2 separate regions of the Homo sapiens genome follow, and region 1 is linked to region 2. The links come from fine-mapping of genetic effects on gene expression. A gene starts in region 2. The other region holds a variant in brackets. All regions are shown on one strand. Distances are from middle to middle. Region 1 overlaps ULK2 (unc-51 like autophagy activating kinase 2). Region 2 holds the start of ULK2 (unc-51 like autophagy activating kinase 2).

Region 1 (8,000 bases), 47 kb after region 2:
CTTAAATTTTCTTGGTTAATTGACCCTTCTATCATTATTTAATACCTTTTTTTTTTTTTTTTTTGAAATGGAGTCTCGCTCTGTCACCCAGGCTGGAGTGCAGTGGCGCGATCTCGGTTTACTGCAACAACCTCCGCCTCCTAGGTTCAAGCGATTCTCCTGCCTCAGCCTCCCAAGTAGCTGGGACTACAGGTGCCTGCCACCATGCCCAGCTAATTTTTATATTTTTAGTAGAGACAGGATTTCACCATGTTGGTCAGGCTGGTCTCAAACTCCTGACCTTGTGATCCACCCTCCTCAGCCTCCTAAAGTGCTGGGATTACAGGCGTGAGCTACCGTGCCCAGCCCCCCCCCTTTTTTTTTTCCTTGACAGGGTCTCATCCTGTCACCTAGTCTGGAGTGCGGTGGTGCAGTCTTGGCTCACTGAAACCTCTGCCTCCTGGGCTCAAGTGATCCTCTCACCTCTGCCCCTCAAGTAGCTGGGACTACAGGTGCAAAGCTACCACACCTGGCTAATTTTTGTATTTTTTGTGGAGACAGGGTTTCACCATTTTTTCCAGGCTGATCTAGAACTCTTGAACTCAAACGATCCACCCACCTTGGGCCTCCCAAGTGCTAGGATTACAGGCTTAAGCCAGTGTACTTGGCCTTATTTAACGTACTTTTTGTCTTTTATAACAGTTTTCAATTCAAATTCTATTTTGTCTGATAGTCAACTTTGCCCTTCTCTTTTGCTTAGTATTTGCCTGGGAATAGCTTTTTCCATTATTTTGCTTTCAAATATTTGTGTCTTTAGATTTAAAGCGAGTCTCTTTTTCTTTTTTCTTTTCTTTTTGAGATGGAGTCTTACACTTTCACCCAGGCTGGAGTGCAGTGGCACAATCTCAGCTCACTGCAACCTCTGTGTCCCGAGTTCAGGCGATCCTCTCACTTCAGCTGGGACCACAGATGTGCAGCACCATGCCTAGCTAATTTTTTTGTATTTTTGGTTTCACCATGTTGCCCAGGCTGGTCTTGAATTCCTGAGCTTAAGAGATCTGCCTGGGATTAGAGGCGTGAGCCACCTCACATGGCCTAAAGGGAGTCTCTGTTCTGTTTACAGATTATAGTTGGATTATTTCCTTTTAATCTACTTTGCCAGTCTCTGCCTAAGGAGATCTATTTACATTTAAAGTAATTACTGATGAGGAAAGATTTTCACCATTTTACTATTTTTATGTCTTACAGCTTTTTTGTCCCACATTTCTCCCATTACTGCTCTCTTTAGTGTTGTTTTTTATAGTAATGTGTTTTGATTCCTTTCTCATTTCCTTCTGTGTATATTTTTCCTTGTGGTTACCTGCGGATTACATATAACATCTAAAGTTACTGAATTCATATTAACTTTAGTTGCACACAAAAACTCTACTTCTGTATTGCTTTATACCCCCTTTATGTTGATATCACAAATTATATCTTTATGATAATTTTAATGCATTTGTCTTTTAAACTCTGTAGAAAGTGAAAAAGTGAAGTTACAAACCAAAATTACAGTACTATTGGATTTTAAATTGCCAGTGCATTTATCTTTTCCGGAGATCTTCATGTCTTCATGTGGCTTTTTACTGTCTAGCTCTTTTCATTTCAACCTGAAGTACTCTCTTTAGCATTTCTTATAGGGGAGGTCTTGTGGTAATGAATTCCCTCAGCTTTTGTTTTTCTGGGGATATCTTAATTTCTTCCTGAGTTTTGAAGGACAGTTTTGTGGAATGTAGAATTCTCAGTTAACTTTTTTTTCTTTCAGCACTTTAGATAATATCCCACTGCCTTCTGGCCTCAAGATTTTTGATGGGAAATTGGCTGATATTCTTATTAAGGATCCCTGTATATTACAAGTTGCTTCTCTCTTGCTTCCAAGATTCTCTCTGTCTTTTGAAAGTTTGATTCTGTAACTCTGTGTGGGTCTCATCAGTTTATCTTAAAGTTTTTGGAAGTTGCTTTTTTTTTTTTTTTGAGACAGAGTTTCGCCCTTGGTGCCTAGGCTGGAGCGCAATGGCAGGTTCTCGGCTCACCGCAACCTCCACCTTCCGGGTTCAAGCGATTCCCCTGCCTCAGCCTCCTGAGTAGCTGGGATTACAGGCATGTGCCACCATGCCTGTTAATTTTGTATTTTTAGTAGAGACGGGGTTTCTCCATGTTGGTCAGGCTGGTCTCAAACTCCTGACCTCAGGTGATCTACCTACCTCTGCCTCCCAAAGTGCTGGGATTATAGGCGTGAGCCACCACGCCCGGTCCAACCTAATTCTTATCTTAGGTAAAAACAGCTACTTGAAAATGTCAGACCAGAGAAATCATTAAGACATGTTTAATGAAAATACTTAGCAAATTAACCCTGATCTTGTAGTTTTTAGGGAAAAAAGTGTTTGACTTTTCCTGTAGTAATAGTTGTAATACTAACAGAGATTTGTGGAAATATACTCCAGGATTTTGGTTTGCTAATGTATAGTATAATAGGGAAACCCACATTGGTATTTAAATAAGTTGGACTAGAATTTGAATTCTAGTCCCTCACCTTACTAACTCTTTGACATTGGACAAGAAACATGGCCTTTGTGTGCTTTTAATTTTATTACCCATCATAGGAGGACATACTTCCTCAGATAAGGTTTGTGAAGCACCCAGTTCATTGTCTTAGTGAATGTTGAATACTCAGTAGAGGATAGCTGTAATTGTTTCCATGTCGGGGAAAAGATGAAATGGTCTGAATACCTATTTTCTTAATGTTTTGTAAAGTTGGACTAAAATTAAGTTCATGTAGTTGGAAATATTTATACCTATTAGGGAGAAGTTAAGCTGAGAGTTGCTCTGAACCATGAGAATTATGGTCAATAGTGAAACAACTATTATGGAGAATGGTTTTAAAATTATTGAATGTATTGTTTTTGTAGTTTCTTTTTTTTTTTTTTTGAGACGGAGTCTCGCTCTGTCACCCAGGCTGGAGTGCAGTGGCGCGATCTCGGCTCACTGCAAGCTCCGCCTCCCGGGTTCACGCCATTCTCCTGCCTCAGCCTCCCGAGTAGCTGGGACTACAGGCGCCGGCCGCCATGCCCAGCTAATTTTTTGTATCTTTAGTAGAGACAGGGTTTCACCGTGTTAGCCAGGATGGTCTCAATCTCCTGACCTTAGGTGATCTGCCTGCCTCGGCCTCCCAAAGTGCTGGGCTTACGGGCGTGAGCCACCACACCCGGCCAGTTTTTTCTCTTTTTAATGTGAAACCAGCATCAGGAATACTTGTAGGGGCGAAGGATAGTTTGTTGTATAAATCAGCTGTATCAATTTCCTCTTAGGACAATTAACAGCTGTAGTTCACATGGGTGCTTAACAAGGGCCTGGTGATCACAGTTCTCCTGTGGGGCTGTCCACTGGAGGGTGGCATACGTTAGAGAACATGTCTGTGTAAGTAGCATCAGAGTATGTTGTGCTGGTGATAGATGTTTTGAGAATTCGTAATTATTTAAAATTTGTTATTGATTCATTATTTTATATGATTATAAAAATAATTATTTTATAGAGGATTTATAAAAAATACGCTTTTACATTTAAAGGAAATGGA[G/T]CCTATATAAAGAAGTTAAATTCTGATCTCAAAGACATTATATTGAATACGTTGAGAAAAAATAACCTGGTTGATAGTTTAGTCAATGTCTCTTTAAAGGTTGCATTCTCATTTCTTGTTACAGAAGCATTTTTTAGCCATCCTTTTCTTGAGCAAGGTCCAGTAAAAAAATGTGAGTATCCATTTTTTGTATTTTCACTTAAAGAATGAATGCAAGCTTTAGGAAAAATTAATGATTTTTACTACAAAATTCATCTTTTATTGTGACTCCTAAAATTTCATTGAATTTATTTATTTATTTATTTATTTTTTTTTTTTTTTTTTGAGATGGAGTTTCGCTCTTGTTGCCCAGGCTGGAGTGCAGTGGCGTGATCTCGGCTCACAGCAACCTCCACCTCCCGGGTTCAAGCCATTCTCCTGCCTCAGCCTCTGGAGTAGCTGGGATTACAGGCATGCGCCACCATGCCCGGCTAATTTTGTATTTTTAGTAGAGATGGGGTTTCTCCATGTTGGTCAGGCTGGTCTCGAACTCCGGACCTCAGGTGATCCACCCGCCTCAGCCCCACAAAGTGCTGGAATTACAGGTGTGAGCCACCACACCCAGCTACTTTTTTTTTTAAACGGAGTCTTGCTCTGTCACTCAGGCTGGAGTGCAGTGGTACAACCTCTGCTTCCTGGTTTCAAGTGATTCTCCTGCCTCAGCCTCTGGAGTAGCTGGGATTACAGGCGGGCACTACCACACCTGGCTAATTTTTGTATTTTTAGTAGAGACGAGGTTTCACCATGTTGGTCAGGCTGGTCTCAAACTCCTGACCTCAAGTGATCCTCCTGCCTCAGCCTCCCAAAGTGTTGGGATTATAGGAGTGAGCCTCTGCTCCCAGCCTGATTTTCTTAGATACCTACGGTTGTGTTTATTTAATAACTGTTCTATTTTTCCTTCTGAAACGAAGTTGAAATAGTTTTAGTAATTGCTGCATTTTTAGTTTCATCAGCAGATGTGGTAATAAATAGGTAAATGCAGATTTTGGGGGAACACAAAGGTGTAGTAGTTTTGGCAAGTGTTTCTGTTATACAGGTCATGTGACTGCACTACAAAATGATGTAGTTCATTTGTGTTTCTTCCCCTAGCTTGCCCAGTTCCAGTGCCCATGTATTCTGGTTCTGTCTCTGGAAGCTCCTGTGGCAGCTCTCCATCTTGTCGTTTTGCTTCTCCACCAGTAAGTTACAGTTTATTAAAAATAATTTCAGAGTTAGTGCTATTACATCTTTTCTCAAATGGAGCATGCACATACACTGTGGATATTCTTTTTATGTGTAATGTTTACTAATGTAGCTGAGATTTGGGGGAAAGAACATGATAGTTGGGTCAAATGGACCTGCATTCGGGCCTCTGTCCATATGTTACTGTGTAAGCTCCAGAAAGAAATGTCACCTCTCTGGGCCATTTTCCTCTGAACAGTGAGTATAGCACTATCACCTTCTTATACCCTATGGTGTTTTGGTGATGATACTTGCAAACAGAGTACCCATTACAGGTGGATAGGCAATAAATATTTATTTGATCTGAATGCCGTAGACATGAGCTTGGATTTTTTTTGTATGTGGAATTTCTACTGAGGGAGGAGTCACCTCTGAGCCAGATTTCACTGACTTAGATTCTCTTAATCATGATTTCTGGCGCTTTAAGGTGGCTTCTACTCAAACCTCTTCCTTTCCCTGAAGCTCCCAAGGCATTTTCTTCATGGCTGTGTTCCCTCCCATCTCAGTACTTCTTCCTAATCCTGAGGCCTTCTGGTCACTCTAGTCACTTCTTCCTACTCCACTCTTCTCTTAGGCTTTTTTTTTTTTTTTTTTTTTTTTTTTTGAGATGGAGTTTCGCTCTGTCGCCCAGGCTGGAGTTTAGTGGCTCCATCTTGGCTCACTGCAACCTCCGCCTCCTGGGTTTAAGCGATTCTCCCAGCCTCAGCCTCCCAAGTAGCTGGGACTGTAGGCGCACACCACCACACCCAGCTAATTTTTTGTATCTTTTGTAGAGACGGGGTTTCACTATGTTGGCCAGGCTGGTCTGAAACTCCTGAACTCAAGTGATCTGCCCGCCTTGGCCTCCCAAAGTGTGAGCCACGGCACCCTGCCCCAGACATCAATTTCTTGAATGCCGCTGGCAGAAAGATAGGGGAGCCATAAAAGTGAGACAACTCAGAGGTTTAAGTGGATGGGGCTTGCAGCCTCCATGTACCTTACCTGTCATATAGGACACCTTTTTTTTGTATGTCAAGTAAGTGTAATTTACCTACCTCGTAGGGTTCTTCAGGGATAAGTGAGTGTAAGCACTTATTGCATGCAGGGTCTGACACATAGTATATAACGCAAGGGGTGGCAACTGTTAGGTAAAGCAGATGCAGATGTAGCCTGTTGCAAACAGACAAGTCTCAAAACTGGCAGCAAACCTTTCTTACACAGCCCCGCAAATTCATACCAAATAGATAAAGCAGATTATGTTAATAAGACTTATGTTATGTTCTGGTGAACTAAAAAAATTAAGAGCCAGACACGCTGGCACCAATCCTAGCCCTGCTGCTTGCCCACTCAGTGACTTTGGGCCGGTCAGTTAGAGAGGTGGGCCATGGTGTCCTCATCTGGACCATAGGCTTGTTTAACCTTTGCTTGCAGGGTCCTGGTAGTAAGATGTGGGAAGTGCCTAGCCATGGCAAAGTCTCAATAAATTGTGGCTATTATTATGAACCATATATTTGACACAATGTAATATGAAAAGCAAAGCTTGTGCTAGAGGAAAGAACAACAGGGAAGAATCTAATTTTGGGAGAGCAAACATAAAGGAGCCTGTGGGGTGATAGTGTGACTGAGGGATGAGAGAGGCCAGTAGGGAGGACGTTGAACTGGAAATTTTCTTTGACTGGAGAGAGCATTTTGGGGTTTTTGTTGGTTGAAAGAGGAGGACAAAATAGGAGCCAGGCTAGGGCTGCCAAGGAGTAGCTGAATGTAGAACTAACTGGAGGAGTGAAGAGAGGCAGGAGAAAGAGAAAGTCTTTTTTAGATGTTAAAAACTCTGGTGGACAAACCTATTTTTTCTGAGGCAGGAATATTGTTTGATTCCAGGAGTTCAAGACCAGCGTGGGCAACATATCAAGACCACCCATCTCTACTAAAAAAAAAAAAAAAAAAATAGCCAGGCGTGCCTGGGCATGACTGTAGACTCAGCTGTAAGGGAGGCTGAAATGGGAGGATTGCTTGATCCCAGGAGTTCAAGGCCAGACTGGGCAACATAGTAAGAACCTGCCTCTATTAAAAAAAAAAAAAAAAATCCGGCTGGGTGTGGTGACTCACGCCTGTAATCCTAGCACTTTGGGAGGCTGAGGTGGCCAGATCATGAGACCGGGATATCAAGACCGTCCTGGCTAACACGGTGAAACCCCATCTCTACTGAAAATACAAAAAATTAGCTGGGCATGGTGGCACGCGCCTGTAGTCCCACCTACTCGAGAGGCTGAGGCAGGAGAATCGCTTGAACCCGGGAGGCGGAGGTTGCAGTGAGCTAAGATCGCTCAACTGCACTCCAGCCTGAGCGACAGAGCGAGACTCCATCTCAATAAAAAAAAACAAACCAAACAAAAAACAGTAAACGGGCCGGGTGTGGTGGTTCATGCCTATAATCCCAGCACTTTGGAAGTCTGAGGCGGGTGGACCACTTGAGGTCAGGAGTTTGAGACCAGCCTGGCCAACATGCCAAAACCCTGTCTTGGTGTTTTTTCAAATAACAAAAATTGGCTGGGCGTGGCGGCGTGCACCTGTAATCCCAGATACTCAGGAGGCTGAGGCAGTAGAATCACTTGAACCCAGGAGGCAGAGGCTGCAGTGAGCCAAGATCATGCCACTGCACTCCAGCGTAGGTAACAGAGCGAGACTCTATCTCAAAAAAAAAAATAAAATAAAAAATAAAATAAGTCACTGGCATAAACATATCCTTTTTATGTCTTATTCATTAGAGTTCTTTAAAAAGTAAGGTTGGGCCAGGCTCAGTGGCTCACGCCTGTAATCCAGCACCTTGGGAGACCAAGGTGGGTGGATCGCTTGAGATTAGGAGTTTGAGACCTGCCTGGCCAACATGGTGAAAACCTGTCTCTACTAAAAATACAAAAATTAGCCAGGTGTGGTGGCGTGCGCCTGTAATCCCAGCTACTTGGGAGGCTGAGGTGGGAGAATCACTTGAACCCAGCAGGTGGAGATTGCAGTGAGCTGAGATTGTGCCACTGCAGAGCAAGACTTTGTGACTTTCTCTCAAAGAAAAAAAAAAAAAAGATAAGGTCAGCTGGGTGTGCTTGCTCACGCCTGTAATCCCAGCACTTTGGAAGGCCAAGGTGGGAGGATTGCTTGAGCCCAGGAGTTTGAG
Region 2 (16,202 bases):
TTTTTTTTTTCTTTTTTGTTGAGGCAGAGTCTTGCTCTGTCACTCAGGCTGGAGTGCAGTGGTGTGATCACAGCTCACTGCAATCTCTGCCTCCCAGATTCAAGCTATTCTCGTGCCTCAGCCTCCCGAGTAGCTGAGATTACAGATGTGCACCACCATGCTCAGCTAATTTTTTGTATTTTTAGTAGAGATGGGGTTTCACCATGTTGGCCAGGCTGGTTTTGAACTCCTGGCCTCAAGCAATCCACCCACCTCAGCCTCCCAAAGTGCTGGGATTACAGGCGTGAGCCACTGTGCTTAGCTAGCAGCAAGATTTTTAAATTGAGCATATCTTAATAAAGAGTGTGGCCCAGGCACGGTGGCTCACGCCTATAATCTTAGCACCTTGGGAGCCCGAGACAGGTGGTCAGGGGTTCAAGACCAGCCTGGCCAACATGGCAAAACCCCGTCTCTGCTAAAAATACAAAAATTAGCTGGGTGTGGTGGCACATGCCTGTAATCCTAGTTACTCGGGAGGCTGAGGCGGGAGAATTGCTTGAACCCAGGAGGCAGAGGTTGCAGTGAGCCAATATCATGCCAGCGCACTCCAGCCTGGGCAAGACAGTGAGACTCTGTCTCAAAAAAAAGAAAGAAAGAAAGAGTGTGCTGGTCAGATGCGGTGTCGCACACCTGTCATTCCAGTGTTTTGGGAGGCTGAGGTGGGAGGATTGCTTGAGCCTAGCAGTTGGAGGCTGCAGTGAGCTATGATCACACCACTGTACTCTAGCCTGGGCAACAGAGTGGGACCCTTTCGAAAGAAAGGAAGAAAAAAATGAAAGGAAGCAAGGGGGAAAAGAGGGAGGTGGGGGAGTAAAGAGTGTACTAATCAGAAAGGGGCTGAGAGCCCTGGAAGAATGAAAAGGCAGAGTCAAGGAGACAATATGGGGAGAGAGAGTATTGCCTTGCCAAGGGTGATGCCTTCAACGGCATTGCCCGAGGTCAGCAGACACCCTGGGCTCAGATTCCAGCTTACTCAGTACCCCTGAATCTATGGCTTCCCAGGTGGCTTTGCAGAGCTGAGGGTATGTGAGGAGCTACTTACTGTTACCAGCATTTTAGCCCACCAGACAGTTCATCTATTCATTCATTCAACAAGTATTTAGGAGTGAACAAAATTGACAAAGTAGCCAGGTGCAGTGGCTTGAGCCTGTAATCCTGGCACCCTTTGGGAGGAGAAGGCAGTAGGATCACTTGAGTTCAGAGCCTGGGCAACAGAGTGAGACCCTCTCTCTGAAATACATATACATATATATAATATATGTATTTTATATTCATATTTACAATTTTAATATATATATTAAAATAATAATAGAAATAACTGACAAAACCCCTGTTCTCAAGAAATGTATTCTCTAGTGGAGGAAGCTGACCATCAAACAAACAAACTAGGTAGGATGTTAGCTGGTGATGGGTACGAAGGAGAAAATGAAACCTGGAAAGGGAGATAGGAATTGTAGAGGGAGGAATACAACTTGACAAAAGGAGGCCAGGGATAGCCTCACTGAGCAGGTGACATCTCAGTAAAGACCTGAAGGAAGTGAGGGCGTGATCCTTGCAGATAGAGTGAGAGCATTCCCAGAGGAAGAAACAGCATGTTTAGGAGCCCTGAAGCAGGAGGCCAGGCAAACTGGGGGAAGGTGACATGAGATGTGGACACATGGGAAACAGGCCAGATGGTGAAGGGTCTTGCAGGTTATTGTTAAGGACTTTCCTTTGATTGGATGAGAGGACTTTGTAGGGTTTTTAACAAAGAACAACATAATCTGGGTTACTCTTTTCCTTTTAAAGACTTTATTTTTATCTTTTTAGTTACTTTTATTTCGATTTGTACAAATGTATTGGGTACACGTGCAATTTTGTTGCATGCATAGATTCCCCAGTGGTCAAGTCAGGGCTTTTAGTGCACCCATCAGGTACATTGCACCCTTTAACTAATTTCTTATCATCCACCCCTCCCCCTCGCAGCTCCTCACCCTTCTGAGTCTCCATTGTCTAGCATTCTACTCTACGTCCATGTGCACACATTTCTTAGTACCCACTTATGAGTGAGAACATGCAGTATTTTATTTTCTGTACCTGTCTTGTTTCACTTAAGATAATGACTGACCTCCATTTCTACCCATGATGCTGCCAAAAACATAATTTCATTTTTTTTTTTTTGAGACGGAGTCTCCCTCTGTCACCCAAGCTGGAGTGCAGTGGCTCGATCTTTGCTCACGGCAACCTCTGCCTCCTGGGTTCAAGTGATTCTCCTGCCTCAGTCTCCTGAGTAGCTGGGATTACAGGCATGCACCACCATGCCTGGTGAATTGTTCTTGTATTTTTAGTAAAGATGAGGTTTCACCATGTTGGTCAGGCTGGTCTCGAACTCCTGACCTCATGATCCGCCCTCCTCAGCCTCCCAAAGTGTTGGGATTACAGGCGTGAGCCACCGCACCCGGCCAATAATTTCATTCTTCTAATGGCTGAATGATATTCCATTGTGTATATGCACCACACTTTCTTTATTCATTCACCTGTTGATGGACACTTAGGTTGATTTTGTATCTTTGCTATTGTGAATAATGCTGCGATAAACATACAAGTGCAAGTATCCCTTTGATACACTAATTTCTTTTCGTTTGGGTAGATACCCATAGAGGGACTGCTGGATTGAATGACATTATGGTTCTATTTTCAGTTTGTGAGAGATCTTCACATCGTTTTCCACAGAGGCTGTACTAATTTACATTCCTACCAACGGCATATAAGAGTTCCCTTCTCTCTGCAGCCTCACCAACATCTGTTATTTTTTGTCCGTTTAATAATAGCCATTCTGACTGGTGTGAGATGATATCTCATTGTGGTTTTAATGTGCATTTTGCTGATAATTAGTGGTGCTGAGCATTTTTTAGGACTTTACTTTTTAAAGCAGTTTTAGGTTCACAGCAAAATTGAGCAGAAAGTACAGCAAGTTCCCACACACTCCCTGCCCCCACTGCATGCACAGTCTTCCCCACTGTCAACATCCCCCATCAGAGTGCTGCATTGGTCACAATCCATCAGGCTACACTGGCACACTCTAATCACCTGAAGTCCACCGTTTACAGGAGGGTTTTTACATTAGTGTTTTCTCTTGGTGATAGACGTACTATGGGTTTGGACAGATGTCAAAGTTGGGAGAAGTTCACCTTTAATCAGAAATGAATGTTGGATTTTGTCAAATGCTTTTTCTGGTTTAGTTTTTAACAGCTGAAACTTTCCCTCACAAATCAATACATTCGGCTTCTGGGATATATGTCACAGCCTCTAGGATTGTGATTCATGTGAACTCCTCTTGAGAGAGACTCTCACCCTGATCTCTGGGTGCTCATGAAATCAGGTTCATGGACCTGCCAGGCCAAGTTCTGCATCCCAACTGAGGTGGTTTCTCTAGAGCAGGCAACCCGTTGTGAAGCCTTAGGGAGGACATGGGCTGCAGCTTCTCAGGGTGACCCCCTCGCTATCAAGGCACAGCGCTGTGGGCTGTGGGTTCTACTGGTCTCAGGGTTCTACTGATGTCTCTGCTATGTCTGCACTGAGATCACACACACAGTTTTAGTTCTTGTTGCTGGTGGGTTTTGCTTCTTCCTTCCTTTGAAGAAGGCTGGCAGCCTCCAAGAGCTTCGTCCCTGAGAGGCGTGGCATGTGGGCATGTGTGTGCCGTGTGGTTGACCTCGGGCAAGATCCCTACCACATCCCCGAGAGGCAGAGGAGATGGCTTCGGGCCCCCTGCGCAGGGCAGGGCGTTCACTTCCTCTTGAGTTGGGGGAAGATATCAGCTCAGCAATTCTCACCACGGTAGGGAGAAAAAGGGAAATATTAGTTTCCCAGTGTTAGCAATTACACAACAGCCAGAAATCAGTCCTCCTGATTATAGACTCCTCCAAGGAGGAACTGAGGGCTGCAGGGGCTGCACGGAAAGAATAGCCTTGGGAGTAATATCAAGAGATAGGTCTGTCTTTGTAATAAATCAGAAAAATCAATGCTTTATTTTTATCTATTTATTTATTTTTGAGACAGAGTTTCCCTTTTGTTGCCCAGACTGGAGTGCAATGGCACGGTCTCGGCTCCTGCAACCTCTGCCTCCCGGGTTCAACCGATTCTCCTGCCTCAGTCTCCTAAGTAGCTGGGATTACAGGCGCGTGCCACCACGCCCAGGTAATTTTGGTATTTTTAGTAGAGACGGGGTTTCACCATGTTGGCCAGGCTGATCTTGAACTCCTGACCTCAGGTGATGCATCCGCCTTGGCCTCCCAAAGTGCTGGGATTACAGGAGTGAGCCACTGCCGCCGGCCACCAACTCTTTACTCTCATCTTCATAATACATCATCAGGACCTCCTGACTGTCCCACCAATGTTTCACAAGTCAGTGAACTTGTCTCTATCTCTGTCTGCCACCAGCAGTCACTAAACATCATCATCTCCATTTCTACAGATGGCACAGAGGCCCAGAGAGGTGAAGGAAAGCCTAAGGTCCTACAGCCAGGATGTGGCACAATTTGGAACTGAACCTACTTTACTGCAAACAGCACAGTGTAGATGAAGCCTGGCCTCTTACGGCACTAGCTTGAGCTTGGACTAGTGGAGCAGTTCTCAAACCTTTCATCTCAGAAACCCTTCACACCCTGAAAATGTTTTGAGAATCCCAAAGAGCTTTGGTTTATGTAGGCTAGACCTATTGACATATGCATAATGTATCAGAAATTAAAAACAGAAATTGGCCAGGTGTGGTGGCTCACACCTGTAAGCTCAGCAATTTGAGGCAGGAGTATCCCTTGAGCCCAGAAGTTTGAGACCAGCCTGGGCAACAAGTGAGACCCCATCTCTAAAAAAATTTTTTAAAGTAGCCCAGCACAGCGGCTCATGTCTGTGCTTCCAGCTACCCAAGGTGGGAGGATTGCTTGAGCTCAGGAGGTCAAGACTGCAGTGAGCTGTGATTGTACCACTCACTGCCCTCCGGCCTGGGTAACAGAGTGATAACCTGATTTAAAAAAAAGAGAGAGAAATTTTTGGCCGGGCACAGTGCCTCATGCCTGTAATCCCAGTACTGTGGGAGGCCAAGGTGGGTGGATCACCTGAGGTCAGAAGTTTGAGACCAGCCTGGCCAACATGGCGAAACTGCCGTCTCTACTAGAAAGACAAAAAAAAAATCAGCTGGGCCTGGTGGCCCTCTGTCTCCTGGGTTCAAACGATTCTCATGCCTCAGCCTCCTGGAAAAAAAAAAGAGAGAAAAAATTGAATTTTCTATTATAAATCATTTATTAAAACCAGACCCTTAAAAAGTTTCATTTATTTATTATTTAGCCACTCCCATGTTACAGTTTTTATGTTTTTATTAAACTTTCTAAATCAGGATGGATTCCTTTTTTTTTTTTGAGACTGAGTCTTGCTCTTTCTCCCAGGCTGAAGTGCAGTGGGGTGATTTCGGCTGACTGTAACCTCCGCCTACCGGGTTCAAGTGATTCTCCCACCTCAGCCTCCCAAGTAGATGGGATTACAGGCATTCGCTACCACACCCAGCTAATTTTTGTATTTTTAGTAGAGATAGGGCTTCACTATGTTGGTCAGGCTGGTCTTGAACTCCTGGTCTCAGGTGATCCACCCACCTCAGCCTCCCAAGTGCTGTGATTACACGCCGGGCCGAGTCACAGGAAAAAAAAAATTTAATAGATGCTTTCAGATATTTTTTCTGCCAGTTCCACATAATTCACAGGACACACTAAATAATCTTTAAAGTCTTAAAATTTGCATTTAAGTACATTATTAAAATATTTTAATATGAAATAATAGATGTGGCATTGATAATGGTAGAAAATTACGGCTTGACTTCCAAGTGTTCCCGAAAGTTGTTGCAGTAGCCTTGGGGACATGCTGCCCAGACCTTCCCTGGAGGACGAACATGCTGCGAGGCTGTGGTAGCACAGTAAACGTCCAGCAGTCAACTCCTCCTGGCCTCAGCAGCAGAGCAGCCTCACCGCCCTGTCAGGGGCCTGGGTGGCCCCACCAGGTTGCTGAGTGAGGCGTGACATTTTGGCTCAATGCGGGACAACTCTGATGTTCTGCTCCAGAGCTTTCTGCTGAGGAGGTTAGGCATGGTCGAGCCTGCATCACAGTTCTTCCTCTTCTGTCCCGTTCTGCTTCCAGCCCCCATTTTTCTCCCCCTGGTGTTAATCCCTAATAATCATCTGTACCTCAAGTCCAGGTCAGCATCTCTTTGCAGAGAACGCAACCAAGGACAGTTGTTTTGTCATTTCAGTGGGTCTTTGCTTCGTAAGAGGGAGCTCAAATCTAGATTGCAATGGCACATCTACATTGGTCTCATTCCTTTTTTCTTTCTTTTTTTTTTTTTTTTTTCTGAGACCAAGTCTCGCTGTGTCGCCCAGGCTGGAGTGCAATGGTGCCATCTTGGCTCACTACAACCTCTGCATCCTGAGTTCAAGTGATTCTCCCCCCTCAGCCTCCTGAGTAGCTGAGATTACAGGTGTGTGCCACCACACCTGGCTAATTTTTGTATTTTCAGCAGAGACAGGGTTTCATCATGTTGGCCAGGCTGGTCTCAAACTCCCGATCTCAAGTGATCCACCCACCTCGGCCTCCCAAAGTGCTGGGATTATAGGCATGAGCCACTGTGCCTGGCCAGTCTTATTCTTTTTTGAAGTTCTAGTAAATCCATCATGGCTGAAAATGCTCTATTCTTTCTAAACCATACAGTAGATTCTGCTGACATTTTTGAAGTGCTTCCAGATAGCGGAACAGGGGAGGTTCCTGGAGGGTGCTGTGCCTGGAGAGGACATAGAAGCTCCATGCCCCTTCCCACATGCCTTGACCTGTGCATCTGTTCACCTAAGACACATGCTCACCAGTGCCCAGATGAGGAAGTAAGAGCTGTGGACAACAGTGTGCTGAACAGAATTGGGGAACCCAGCTTCTTCTCGATCCCCTTTCATAGTCCTTTTGGACATGACCTTATCAGACAGGCTGGAAGTAGGAGTTGGCGGGGCCTCTAGCACCTTCCTGGATAAGGTCCCAACCTAACTTCCCAGCCCCATCTCCCACTATTCTATCCAACCCATCCAACCATGTACCTTACATTCTTGCTATGCCAAACAGCCCACTGGTTCCCACAATGCCACATTTTGAACACGCTCCTTTCACTCACCTTTCCTACTTGGCAGGCTCTGATACATCTTTCAAGACTTTTCTCCAACATGACTTTCTTCCAGAAAACTTTGCAACCCCAAGCAATGTTAGAGTCGTCTTCTTCTGGTTTCACCATGTTGGCAAGGCTGATCTCAAACTCCTGACCTCAAGTGATCATGTGGGAAGGGACATGGAGCTTCTATGTCCTCTCCAGGCGCAGCACCCTCCAGGAACCTCCACCTGTTCAGCTATCTGGAAGCACTTCAAAATGTCAACAGAATCTACTGTACGGTTTAGAAAGAATAGAGCATTTTCAGCCATGATCCCAAAATGCCTGTAATCCCAAAATGCTGGGATTACAGGTGTGAGCCACCGTGCCCGGCCTGGTCAATTGTTTTATTTTTTGTAGAGAAGAGGTTTTCCTATGTTGCCCAGACTGGTCTTGAACTCCTGAGCTCAAGCAATCTGCCTGCCTCATTCTCCTAAAATGCTGGAGTTACAGTCTTGGGCCACTGTGCCTGGCCTGAAATGCAAATTTTTTTTTTTTTTTTTTTTTTTTTGAGATGGAGTCTCACTCTGTCGCTCAGGCTGGAGTACAGTGGCGCGATCTTGGCTCACTGCAAGCTCCGCCTCCCAGGTTCACGCCATTCTCCTGCCTCAGCCTCCCTAGCAGCTGGGACTGCAGGTGCCCGCCACCACGCCCAGCTAATTTTTTGTATTTTTAGTAGAGACTAGGTTTCACCGTGCTAGCCAGGATGGTCTCGATCTCCTGACCTCGTGATCTGCCTGCCTCAGCCTCTCAAAGTGCTGGGATTACAGGCATGAGCCACTGAGCCCGACCTGAGATGCAAATTTTATACTGATTTTTTTTTTTTTGAGACAGAGTCTCGCTGTGTTGCCCAGGCTGGAGTGCAGTGGCATGATCTCAGCTCACTGCAAGCTCTGCCTCCCGGGTCCACGCCATTCTCCTACCTCAGCCTCTGGAGTAGCTGAGACTACAGGCGCCCACCACCATGCCCAGCTAGTTTTTTGTATTTTTAGTAGAGATGGGGTTTCACCATGTTAGCCAGGATGGTCTTGATCTCCTGACCTTGTGATCTGCCCGCCTCGGCCTCTCAAAGTGCTGGGATTGCAGGCGTGAGCCACCGCGCCTGGCCAAATTTTATACTGATTTTTGCACAATATAAAAAGATGCTCCCTGCTGTTTTTGTTTGTTTGTTTGTTTTTTGCATTGCATCAAAATATTCCTAGGCTGAACTTTGTTACTGATATCATTTCAGAAAATTTACATTTATTATTCAGAAGATTTGTCATTATGGTATTTTTTAAAACTTTAAAAAACATACTAAAAATTTGTTATTGCTTCCTTTTTTGTGCTTATTTTTCGTATTTTATTGTAAATTCTTGCATTTATAAATATCAAAGCACTGCACCCTAACTATTCACAAGAATTTCAAAGCATCAGCAATGTCATCAAAGTAGAAACAATAGAACCAAAATAGAAGGAATAGCAATGATGTAATTTGAAGATAATAATAAACTGGCTATTCTCCTGCATCTTGGAATGCCTCCCTGCCCAGCAGAATATTTCTCACATTTATTTTCACAGGATACCTTTTATCATCAGAACATTTCTATAGCACTGGATGATAAACTAAACAGTTTATATTAGAATTTATATTAGTAATTAATTTTTTTTTAAGACAGTGTCTCATTTGTCACCTAGGCTGGAGTGCAGTGGTGCGATCCCGGTTCACCACAACCTCTGCCTCCCGGGTTCAAGCAACTTTCCTGCCTCAGCCTCCCGAGTAGCTAGGATTACAGGCGAATGTCACCACACCTGGCTAGTGTGTGTGTGTGTGTGTGTGTGTGTGTGTGTGTGTGTGCATGTGTGTGAGATGGATTTTTGCTCCTCTCATCCAAGCTGGAGTGCAATGGTGCAATCTTGGTTCACTGCAACCTCCGCCTCCTAGGTTCAAGTGATTCTCCTGCCTTAGCCTCCCGAGTAGCTGGGATTACAGGCACACACCACCACGCTCGGCTACTTTTTGTACTTTTAGTAGAGATGGGGTTTCACCATGTTGGCCAGGCTGGTCTGGAACTCCTGACCTCAGGTGATCCACCCACCTCAGTCTCCCAAAGTGCTGGGATTATAGGCGTGAGCCCCTGTGCCTGGCCTATATTAGTAATTAATTTTACCTCTCATTGCAGTTACTGTTTTTCTATTTACTAACTGGTATTGAAACATTTCAACAGTTAAGCATGTTTAGACACACATGCATATGCACACACAGGACAAATTAAGAACAATGAACATGAATCAAATTGGCAATTTCCAGTGATTTTAGAGGTAAACTAGAAATCTGCCCTGGCCTCCATTCTCAAATGAAGCCTAAATTTGACCTAGGGTGAACACTTCCTGGGGTGCCTATGTGGCCCCTGCTTCTGGGGACTCAGAACACCCACAGGCTTGTGTTGGGGGCAGCCATAGTTACATGATCCTGCCTTCCTCAGTCCCATTCCTGGCTTCCGATGATTGTTCAGGGCCCAGCACCCAGCTGAAGTTAGGTTGATCAGAATCCCCTCCTTAAGAATTTGGTGGCTGGGCCCAGTGGCTCACGCCTGTAATCTTAGCACTTTGGGAGGCCGAGGCAGGCGGGTTACCTAAGGTCAGGGGTTCAAGATCAGCCTGGCCAACATGGTGAAACCCCGCCTCTACTAAAAAAGCAAAAAAAATTTTAGCTAGGTGCAGTGGCACGCAACTGTAATCCCAGCTACTTGGGAGGCTGAGGCAGGAGAATCGCTTGAACCTGGAAGGCGGAGGTTGCGGTGAGCCGAGATCGTAACACTGTACTCCACCCTGGGCGACAGAGCAAGACTTCGTCTCAAAAAAAAAAAAAATTTGGTTTGGAGACTGGGGCTGCCATTGCCACCATGTAGGAGATCTCAGGCAAGAGAACAAAGCAGGGGCACAGACGGAAGGCAGTTCTCTTTGAGATCCTGGTTCTGCGGGTAGTTTGCTTTTGAAGCCCAACTTTGAACTCTGAGAAGCACACCTGTATCTTTATCTACATTCTTTATTTTTCACTTTATCACATTTGACGTTTGCTATTTGCTACCAACATAGTCCTAACTAAACATTTTTTAGCAAAGCACCCCCTGCCTCCTGCCCCCACTTCTTTTCTGACTCTTGAGGTCAGAAATCCTGCACATTTTGCTTTTCAAATGGATATGTCCATGGGGCCCATGTTTGGCCTGTGAATACAGGACACGCATGTCCAAACGAAGGGCCTATTGGAGGTTTCTGAAAAATACCTTCATGTGGCCGGGCGCAGTGGCTCACGCCTGTAATCCCAGCACTTTGGTAGGCCGAGGTGGGCGGATCACGAGGTCAGGAGATGGAGACTGTCCTGGCTAACACGGTGAAACCCCGTCTCTACTAAAAACATACAAAAAATTAACCGGGCGTGGTGGCGGGTGCCTGTAGTCCCAGTTACTCCGGAGGCTGAGGCAGGAGAATGGCGTGAACCCGGGAGGCAGAGCTTGCAGTGAGCTGAGATCGTGCCACTGCACTCCAGTCTGGGCGACAGAGCAAGACTCCGTCTCAAAACAAACAAACAAACAAACAAAAAACCTTCATGTGGCTAGGTGAGGTGGCTCACACCTATAATCCCAGCACTTTGGGAGGCCGAAGTGGGCGGATCGCTTGAAGTTGGGAGTTTTGAGACCAGCCTAGCCAACATGGTGAAACCCCACCTCTACTAAAAAAAAAAAAATTAGCCGGGCATGGTGGTGCAGGTCTGCAATCCCAGATACTTGGGAGGCTGAGGCAGGAGAATCACTTGAACCCAGGAGGCGGAGGCTGCAGTGGGCCGAGATCATGCCATTGCACTCCAGCCTGGGCAACAGAGCAAGACTCTGTCTCAAAACAAAAAACAGGCCGGGCGTGGTGGCTCACGCCTGTAATCCCAGCACTTTGAGAGGCCGAGACAGGCTGATCCCTTGAAGTTGGGAGTTTGAGACCAGCCTGGCCAACATGGTGAAACCCCATCTCTACTAAGATACAAAAATTAGCTGGGCGTGGTGGTGCGTGCCTGTAATTCTAGCTGCTTGGGAGGCTCAGGCAGCAGAATCACTTGCACTTGGGAGGCAGAGGTTGCAGTGAACCAAGATTGTGCTACCGCACTCCAGCCTGGGTGACAGAGTAAGATTCTGTCTCAAAAAAAAAAAAAAAAAAAAAAGTAAACAAAAAAATAGACTGTAGAGAATCTTTCAGTGAGGTAAGGAATCATCTCCATCCATTTTTGGGTGTATGTGCAAACTTGCTTAAGTTGCTGTCAACTTTTGAAGGCTCCAGATTTTCAGTGTCTAACACAACCACCTGGGCCAGATGTAAGTAAGGACAGGATAACGTAAGCGTGCACAGTAGCAGAAGCAGAAACTCAAGGCCCTACGTTTTGAGCGTGTGAGGAAGGAGCGTTCTCTCAGAATCCTGGAGCTGACTCTGTCATGGTTCAGAGATCAGCTTGCAGGGACAGGCAGTGGCAGTCGAGGTGGTGACAGACCCCAAAAGCACATACCCTATACAACCGAACACACACTCAAGTGTGGAGCCTGCGTATTCCATGGTAGTTTCAAGCATATTGTTTATTAAATGGTTTCATAAGACACTTCTTTGCGGGAAACCTGACAATCTGTTCCTTGTCACTTGGACAGCTTTAACAATCAGGTAGAAAAGAAAGCTCCCTTCGGCCATGTGAAGTAAGCCCGAGGTCAAACTAGCCTGACACTAGGAGCTCCCAGGAGAACCTTGAAAACGTGTGCGATTCTGAGTCGGTGTGCAGAAACGATTCTCTGCGAAGAGGGCCCTGAGCTGTCACCAGCTTCTCGCAGTCAAGGGACCCCCAAAAGGTGCAGAATCCCGCCTGTCACCGTCCCTCTAGGGATCCTAAGCGAGTAAACCCCGAGAGGCGTCCGAAGGCTGGCAGTTTGGCAGCGTGAACTCTGGTTTTCCAGAGCGCGGGCAAAGCCTGGAGTAGCAGTTGCTCCTTTGCTCTGGCAGGAATCTGGGGGTCTACCCTGCGCAGATAATCCCGTCCTGCCTGCAGCTGGGGTTCAAGACCCGCTTCTCTGAAGTCCGCCTCCCAGCGGCCTGGAGCCCGGGGCGTGGTCGGCTCGAATCTGCTCCCCAGGCCCAGAACGGAGCCCGCAGCCCGTAACCCGCTGTGGCCGCAGCGGGTCGCGCCCTTCGTCCCCGCCTCAGGAGCGGCCGAGGATCTGCCCAGCTGCGGGCGCCAAGCCCTGGCCGCACTCCTTTCCCCGGCGGAGGGAGCCGGCTGGCGCTGCGGCCTTCAAGGCGCGCGGACGTCGCGGAGGGCAGCCAGTCGCGCGGGAGCGGGTAGCGCGCGCGAGGGCGTTGGGCGCCGCCGCGAGGCGGGGAAGCGCGGGGCCGCGGCGGTGCGGGTTCTAGGGCGGCGGCCGTCGCCGTCGCAGCAGCGCCCCGAGCGGGGAGGGCCGAGGAGGCCCGACGAGCTGGGGATGGAGAGTACCGGGCCCCTCACTGCCTCAGAGCGCGTGTGCGGCTCTGGGCGCGCACAGTGACGGTGACGGCACCCCTGGCCCGGCAGCGCCGAGGCCGCTTCGCCAGACAGCCAGCGGCCGGCGGCAGGCCGGGCCATGAGCGGCAGGGGCCGGGCCGGGCCTCGCTGACCCTGGCTCCGCGCGGCAGCTTCCCCAGTTTCCGCTCCGGTCTCTCGGCATGAGAGTCCGCCCGGGCCCGGGGCTGCGGCTGCCCCAGACCCGCCGCACGCTGGCGCGCTCCGGGCCCGCGGAGCCGCGGTGCTGATACCTGCGCCGCACTGCGCCGCCCGCCCGTCCGCTGTGTGCCCCGGGGGCGCGGCCATGGAGGTGGTGGGTGACTTCGAGTACAGCAAGAGGGATCTCGTGGGACACGGGGCCTTCGCCGTGGTCTTCCGGGGGCGGCACCGCCAGGTGAGCGCCGGCCGGGGCGAGGCCGGGCCCCGGGCGGCAGGCACGGGGCTAGGTGGTTCTGAAACTTGGCGCAGCCGCGAGCCGAGACCCCCGACTCGGCTAGCCGCCCGGGTATGCTATTGTGCGCGCAGCCCGTCTCGCCGTTTGTTTTGGTCCTGTGAGGGTTGTTGTGAGGCCCAAGCCTCTGGCAGCGCTCCGCCTACCGACCGGCTGCTGCTGATCCTCCTGTGTGCCCGGGGCCCACCCCGCGGTCCGCCCGCAGGAGCGTTTGCACCCAGGTTACCCTGGACCCAAAATAGACGGTACTGCACCGTGCAGACTCGAGGGTTGGGCGTGAATGGACCTTTGGTTTTTTTCCCCGTGCCCAGGGCTGGTCACTTTTGAGGTTGATAATTACAGACCCAGCGGAAAATGGGCGGATGTCCCATTAGCCTCAGGCTTTCGCAGCCTGGGAGGTGTCACCTTTCCCAGCACTGGTCCCCTGCACCCCGAAGAGCCCCCGTACCGTTTTCCCCCCCGGAGTCAGATAGACGAGCTCCGGGTGAGAAAGGTGGTTGGACAATTCATTTTCAATCACCTTGAACATGAAATCACCTTTAAGCCTTAAAAAAATTGTTTTAAGCCTTTGCTGTTTCGCAAGTACAGTTACACGAGGTTTTAGAATCTAAAGAATTTGGAAAGGCATATCGGGAGTGGAAATAATCTTAAAGGGTGTGGCAGTTCTGATTGTTGCCCAAGGGGCGTGTTAAAAGTGGGCTGACTTTGTTGCTTATCGGATGAAGTAATGCTACTTTTCTTATTTATTTATTTATTTATTTTTGAGACAGAGTCTCGCTTTGTCGCCGAGGCTGGAGTGCCGTGGCGAGATCTCCGCTCACTGCAACCGCTGCCTCCCGGGCTCAAGCGATTCTCCTGCCTCAGCCTCCTGAGTAGCTGGGATTACAGGTGCCCGCCACCACGCCCGCCTAATTTTTTTTTTTTTGTATTTTTAGTAGAGATGGGGTTTCACCACGTTGGCCAGTGTGGTCTTGAACTCCTGACCTCAGGTGATCCGATCTGCCCGCCTCAGCCTCCCAAAGTGCTGGGATTACAGGTGTGAGCCACGGCTCCCGGCCTACTTTTCATTTATTAGGAAAATAATTTAGAACTCAAGCACGGTGTAATCCTTCCAAGCTAACAAATAACTTTTCAATTAACTGTATCACCTTCCAAGTTTATTTCTACATTTGTCCATAACTTTGAAGTGGTTGTGAACTGTTCTTTTTTCATTTAATGTTAGTTACCATGTGGACTTCATATTTGTTATTTTTAGAAGTTGTGTTGTAGGATCTTGGCATATTGCACTATAATTTATGAAATCACTTTCCAATTATTGAAAATAATTCCATTTTTCCCCAATGCCGTACATTTATTTGCCAAAAACACCTTCGCGCTTGTAAATTTTTTTCTGTTATTTATGTGGAATGGTATCTAGGAGTAACACTGTTTTTCCTTTTCAGAAAACTGATTGGGAGGTAGCTATTAAAAGTATTAATAAAAAGAACTTGTCAAAATCACAAATACTGCTTGGAAAGGAAATTAAAATCTTAAAGGTATGTTACTTTATGTAGTAGTATTCATATAAGGTTAAAACTTAATTTAAATGAATACATGCTGCCATCCTTTTCAATTTTGGTAGTTGGGTCCAAGTTTGAGAATTTTCAACTGTTGCTCTCCTTTTTGCATGCTCACTTTTTTAAAACATTGAGTACTCGGAAGCTATTTTTAAGAACCAAAGCTCAGAGGGATTCTGTGAAGACTGAGTTTAGCTTCTCATCATTTCTCTTTTTCCTAGTGACTGTGTTGTTGTTTGAGAAGAGGGCCAGGCAGACCCATCTTGTACATTGTTTTTACCTCTCCTGTTGTCCCCTTTCATGTTACTACTAAGTTTTTTGGGGGGAGTAGGGGTGCTTGGGGTCTTTCTTTAAATTGAAGAAAGTTATATTCCTTGGAGGTGGCCTTTTTAGATCACTCACAACCAGTGTTATCTAAGTGGGATGGTTTGAGAAGATGGTTGAGTACGTTTGGAAAACCCCATTTACTAAATACTTCTTGGAGAGTCACAAAGCCTATGGCTCATTAAAGAAAGTCTGAAAAATTCTACAATGAAGAAACTTGTTTCAAAGTACTTAACCTGGTGTTTTCCAAACTAATACAAGCGTGGAACCCTCATTTAACACCCGATTTCCTCAAAACTGCTTCCTGTGGAGAGCTCTTTTTTAAGAATTGTAGCTCTTTGAGCTAAAAATCATATTTTCTTTCAGTGAGATAATGTGCTTTTTGTTTGATCAGGCACATTTCTTATTCTTTAATTGAATTTTTATAGTCTTAATATAAGTATAATACTAGAAGTGTATGTGTATACTTTAATTTTATTTACATATTAAAATATAGTAAAGTCATTAGAATACTTACATATTTTTCATTCTCAATTTTCTTAATAGGAACTTCAGCATGAAAATATTGTAGCACTCTATGATGTTCAGGTACCTTATTTTGAAAATTTTTAAAAATTAAAATAAATTTTTTTTAATTTCATACAGATTTAAGTGACTCTTAATAGAAATAAAAATGACCTTAATTCTTGTTGAAAAGATGCATAGCTTGAGTTACATGTTTCTGAATTAAGAAATTGTTTAAAACAGAACAGAGTAATAGGCTGAAAGAATTTGCTGCATGAGTAAGTTTATTAACAATTGATAATACACTATAGGTGTAGCATTGTTTTAGGTGAAGTAGAGGACTGTTGATACCAGATCTAGCATTCTCTGATGAATGTTGAAAGGACAATTAAAAATAGAGCTTTTTTTTTTTTTGATGGAGTCTCACTCTGTCTCTTGGGCTGCAGTGCAGTGGCTTGATCTCGGCTCACTGCAACTGCTACCTCCCGGGTTTAAGCGATTCTCCTGCCTCAGCCTCCCGAGTAGCTAGGACTATAGGTGTGCACCACCATGCCCAGCTAATTTTGTGTG

What was found. PIP is the estimated chance that this variant, and not a neighbour inherited with it, causes the effect.
Region 1: its variant is the best candidate, but not a certain one, in a credible set for the expression of ULK2 in whole blood (INTERVAL, PIP 0.65).

Annotation. Positions count from the first base shown.
Region 1 is chr17:19,821,903-19,829,902 of GRCh38, reverse strand. ULK2 (unc-51 like autophagy activating kinase 2) reads left to right here. Exons shown (of 27, transcript NM_014683.4): 11 at 3,717-3,764; 12 at 4,721-4,809. Among named protein-coding and RNA genes, the nearest start is that of TRG-CCC3-1, 35 kb to the left of the region's middle. The variant G/T (reference allele first, on the strand shown) is at 3,593.
Region 2 is chr17:19,864,317-19,880,518 of GRCh38, reverse strand. It overlaps ULK2 (unc-51 like autophagy activating kinase 2), which reads left to right and starts at 12,583. Exons shown (of 27, transcript NM_014683.4): 1 at 12,583-13,191; 2 at 14,691-14,783; 3 at 15,675-15,716. The coding sequence starts at 13,102. RefSeq lists silencers at 12,530-13,119, 13,200-13,379 and an enhancer at 12,958-13,466.